Linked DNA regions of Homo sapiens: region 1 is linked to region 2. Evidence: fine-mapped expression QTL. Tissue or cell type: whole blood. Region 2 holds a variant in brackets; the other region holds the start of a gene. All regions are shown on one strand. Distances are from middle to middle.

Region 1 (2,688 bases), 310 kb after region 2:
GCATCTTTGAAATAAAAGGGGGCTTTTTTGTTTTTATTTTTTAAGTGATTTCTGCCGATCCGATCCCTGGCCTCCTTCTTCAAAGCTGGACTCCCTACCTCCGCCCCTCTTCTCTTTCCCAGTCCCCCCTCCCCTTTGAAAGTGCTTTGAAACCCCCATTAAGAACAGTGTGTGATCAGACTGAGGATTAGGGGAAAAGAACTTCAGCTCTAGGGTGGGGCAAACGGACACAGAAACTGCTTTGTAAAAAACACACAAGAATCCAAATTAAAACACAGCAACAACAACAACAAAAGGAAATAAAAAATTGCCTATTTTGCCACCTACTTTCAGGTAATGGAAAATGATCGCGACCGCTTGATGACTTTCTTCCTGCGCTGGGTCAGCCCGAGCTTCCAAAAATAAAATAAGTGTGACCCAGGCTGACCACGAAGAACGGAAGAGAGAGAGCTGCACTTCCGAACCGCAGAGACCCGGCGCCAGGCAGGGCGACGCTCCCACCCGCTCCGGGCTAGACTGTCCACACGGAGCAGAGGCGGGCACTCCCTCCACCCGGCACCCTGCCTTTTTCTCACCCTGGAAGTCTCCTGCCCCCGAGGCGGGCAACCTGTGTCCCCCAGCCCCACCAGCGCCCCGCCTAGGGACAGCCTCTCCCTGGACTTTGCCTTCCACCAAGAGGAAGAACAGGTTAGAAATGCGGGCGCCTGCAAAGGCAACCTGGAAAATACAAAGTGTTTTTCTCTCCCTCTCCCGCTCTCAGCGCCGAATTCGCGGCCAGTGCACGGCTGGGAGCAGACTTCAGGCTAGCTGTCCTCCGTCCCAACCCCCTAGAGCGCGGGCGCGCGGGGTCGCCTGTCGGGGACACTGCACGGGGTGCATACAGAAGTCCCCGCAGAGGCAGGCCGAGCCCAAGCCCCGGGCGAGGCAGGTCCGCGGGGAGCGCCCCGGATCCTCGCGAAGACCCTGCGGGATTTGAGAAAGGGAGGCTCGGGGAGAGACGGACCCAACTCCTGGTCCGGCTGCACCTACTCCATGTTGCCCACAACGCGCCGGCCGCGGCGCCAGGAGGGGAAGAGCCAAACGTGCCTCACCGTGATCGCGGCTTTGCACCAACCCCTCTCCCTTGGATTCTCTTCTTTCTGCGATGTGCAAATAAATCCAGTCTCGATGCAAACTTTTTTCCTTTCTTTCCAACCTCTGCTTTAGACCAACTTCCGAGCAATCGGCGGGAGAAAAAAAGAGAATTCGGAGCCAGATTCCCCGCTGATGAACACTCCGGGGTTCGGAGCTGGAGACGACTCCCCTTCTACAAGCGCACGCGGAGTATTTCCTCTTTTTTCTCAATGAACAAGAGGCCGAAGCGCCAACGGCAAGTCCCTTTTCCTGGCAGATGAGCGAATGGGAAAAGAAAACGGCCTTACGGAGAACCTAAAGCCAGATCGCCAAGTGGTGCGGCCGGGGCCGCGTCGTAGCGGAGGCGGCGCGGGGGCGCGGGCCGGGCCGGGCCGGGCGGGCGCGGGGGCCTGGGCGCTGCGCGCTCCGCCGGCCCCTCTCCTCCGCTAGCGCTGCGGCGCGCAGCTCTCGGCGGTGCAGACTGGGCGTTGTGGAGGCGAGGCAGCGAGGCCGAGGCGGGGGCGGTGGGTGCGGAGGAGGAGGAAGAGGAGGAGGAGGAGGAGGAGGAGGGTCTGGGGCCCGCCCGGGGGGGGCTCGCCGTTGGCCTGCGCCCTCGCCTTTCCGGAGGAGGCAGGGAGCTCTGCGGCGGCCGCGGCAGCAGTAAATGGCGTCATGTGGATCCGAGGCGGAACAGAGCAGTTGTTGTCCCAGAGGATATATCGCATCCGGTCCCAGCTCATTGGCTCCGCGGGGCTACATTCACTCACACTCCAGCGCCCGCCAGCGCTCCGAGCCGCAGGAGGCATTCAAAAGGGCAACCGCGCCGCCCCGCGCGTCCCCAGGCCGGTCCTGCCGCCCGAGCGCCGTCACGCGGGGCGCCCGCGGGGCCGGGCTGGGCACTGCAGGGTCAGTTTATCTAGTTTCAAGGAAACACTGACCTTAAGGTTTGCCCAGAGGCAATGAGGACGAGCCAGAGGCTCGAGCTGACTTAGGGAACTTTCTCCTTGCCACCAGGAAAGGGGAATGAACATTTAAGACTAATCTGGGCCACGCAGTGTTAGCATGAAAAACAAGTTGCAGGTTTTAAGACTTTATCCAGAATCCATTTCAAGTCTACCTCTCCCCTTTTCTGTTCCCCTTTGCGGAGCGGGTGACGGGGGCTGGGGCGGGGGGAGAAGAAGGGGGAGGGGAAGGGGAGCGGGAAGTGAGGTGGGAGGGCTATTGGTTTATTCTTTGTCTACTGGATTAACCCGATTATACACCAGGCACCAGCACAAACCGCCTCCCCCACCTCCGAGCCTTGTACGGGAGGAACGGAATGCAGATTCGAGTTTCAAGTACCTTCTGCTCTTGCTGGGATTTGCTTTTGATTGTGTCGACTTGTAGTTTTTCCGTTTATTAGAATTTCATTTTTAAGGGGGGTTATCTATGAATGGAGGCTTTTTGAAGAGCTTCCTTACTATTTTGCTTCATGCAGTAGCTAAAGTCTACAGTCTAAGCCTTTTAACTTAATTCATTAATAGACAGGAACAAGATTACTCAGGGCGACAGCATGGGCTTCCGAAATGGGGGGGC
Region 2 (2,688 bases):
TATTGACATTTTGGGCTGGATATGCTGTTGTTGTGGGCTGTCCTGTGTACTGTACGATGTTAAGCAGCATTCCTGGCCTCTGCCCACTAGGTGCCAGTCACAACCCCATAGACCATAAAAAATTGTTTCCAGATCTTGCCAAATGCCCCTGGGGGCAAAGTTGCCTTTGGGGAAGAACTGCTGCCTTAAAGGTATACGCTTTTGGAAACCAATGCTGGTCAGATTCTCTGGAGACCAGAAACTACTAGTAAACAGGAGAGCTGGCAGAAGGGATGGCCAAACGAGAAGTCAGAGTTTCTATTTTAAATTTTTGTTTACCTCCTGCTTGTCATGCTGGAAAAGGGGATAGAAATGTTAGGATAGCTACACACAAACACTTCTATACTACACATAGATAGTTGAATGTTAGCAGAGTTCTGGCATTGTATTTTTTATGAAGTAATTGTTTTCTTCTTATTAGGCACAGGTTTCACCTTTCTAAGGGAAATATTATACCACTGATACAAACAAAATAGATACAGAAACATGGACATTAAATTTGTGCGTGATAAAATTGCTTTTTTCTAAAATATGTTATTTTTTTCTAATATAAATTAGAGTGTCATATAGAACATCACTATGGCGTCTTATTTTACACACACACACACACACACACACACAAACACACCAAATATTTATAGGTCTGTTTAGCATCAATTATCCCACACTTCTTGAGAAAGAACAGCAAAAGGACTAAACTGTCAAGAAATTCAATTTCTAGGCATCTTGAGTTTCTGAACTTTAGGGAAAGGGAGTCATTTACTTTATATTTCTCTGTGGCTGATCTATGATTAGTCATACAGAGATGTCAAAAGATGTTGACAGAATAAGAATAATAAGCATACATTTATGGCCTTCGTCAACAGCCTAGGAGATCAACTGTCCCGTTAACCAATACCTAGCACTTCCTCCAATGGATAAATCTTGAAAAAAGGGGTTTCCAGATGCAGTTTATATCCAGGTAGTTCATTGACCTTTTTGACACTTCCTTTGTCAATCACTTTTTCCAAGATG[A/C]AGGAAATTTGAAAGTCTACAAAGATCACCAAACTTGCTTTCTTTGAGTCAAACTTGCTTTACTTAACTATGAACTGGCAGATGTGTCCATTCCAGTGGTCTGTAAATACTTGGGAAATGGTGAAGCAGTTATTTAGCATGTTTGCCACTAAACATGTTGCCCCCTTCCCATTTGCAGGTTGATCACTTGAGGAAAGAACCCAAACTTTTTGATGTTGACCATACATCTTCCATTTGAGGGCAATTGCCTTTAAACGGGCCACATCTTTGATGTTGCACTTACCCTGGGAAAGATTTAGGTTAAATGGTGTTATTTATCCTAATATTATGATTGTTTTACTTTGGAATTATCTTTCTCAAACACAATACTGAACTGTCTGGGCTCCAAAAGGTGAAAATTGGAAAGCATAAGTTATTCTATACCTATAACACTTGGTTCTCCCAGACCAGCTAAGATGTTTTATGTTTCTAGGTTTTATTTTATTTTATTAATTCTCAGAAATGCGTGTTCATATTTTTCATAAATAAATGTAAATATCTCAATTGAAAATGAACAGAATTGAAAGTCAAATGCATATAAGAGAAAATATATTTCATCAGCCAACATGAAAAAAATTTATTAGTAAACAACAAAATGCACATTAAAACAAGATCTAAATTTTTACTTATCCAATTGGCAGAGATTAAAAATTAATTTAGGATATTCAATACTGGAGATAGTGTTTTGTTAGCAGGAAAGAAAAACGTTATAGCTTCTTTGGAAAATAATTTCACAGTGTGTAGAAGGGGTCTTAAATTTCCAAGTCTGAGACAGGTAATTTTAAATCCAAGAATCTATTCAAAGAAAATCATGTTAAATACAGGGAAACTTTTGTGTACAAATGTGCTCATTTTAGTGCTATTTAGAATATGGAGAAAAGGCGGAAACAAAGCACTTGGCCATAAAAAGAAATTCAAGTAAACTGTGGTACATTCAGTCTATGCATGTAGACATTAAATATACTAATGGTTATTTCTAATAATGGAAAAACATAATATTTAGTAAAAGAAGCACTGTAAAAAATTATAGTAAAATTTATGTATCAAAATTATATAGAAGATGCTTAAAAGACTAAAAATGCAATAAAATATTAATATTTGTTGTCTTTCTAGTGAGACTGAGTAAATGTTTTTAAGTCAAATTTTCCAAATTTTCAGAAAATTCTATATTCAATCATTACTCTTTTATATTTGAAATAAAATAAATTTTATTTTTAAAAAACATATGTACATTTTTTTTTCTTTTTTGAGACAAGGTCTCACTCTGTCACCCAGGATGGAGTGCAGCAGCTTGATCTCAGCTCACTGCAGCCTCCACCTCCTGGGTTCAAGTGATTCTCCTGCCTCAGCCTCCTGAGTAGCTGGTATTACAGGCATGCGCCACCATGCCCAGCTAATTTTTGTATTTTTAGTAGAGATGAGGTTTCACCATGTTGGCCAGGCTGGTCTCAAACTACTGACCTCAAGTGATCCGCCCGCATTGGCCTCCCAACATGCTGGGATTACAGGTGTGAGCCACTGTGCCTGGCCTATGTACATTTTTAAATGGCTACTCTGCAATACTAATCTTCACATGTAGAGTTCTTGGACTAACTA

The links. PIP is the estimated chance that this variant, and not a neighbour inherited with it, causes the effect.
Region 1: it holds the start of SPRY2, and the variant in region 2 is fine-mapped to the expression of SPRY2 in whole blood (INTERVAL, PIP above 0.99).

The regions. Positions count from the first base shown.
Region 1 is chr13:80,339,531-80,342,218 of GRCh38, forward strand. SPRY2 (sprouty RTK signaling antagonist 2) reads right to left here and starts at 1,596. Exons shown (of 2, transcript NM_005842.4): 1 at 1,092-1,596. RefSeq lists silencers at 1,544-1,733, 1,964-2,013.
Region 2 is chr13:80,030,598-80,033,285 of GRCh38, forward strand. No RefSeq gene overlaps it. Among named protein-coding and RNA genes, the nearest start is that of LINC01080, 21 kb to the left of the region's middle. The variant A/C (reference allele first, on the strand shown) is at 1,054.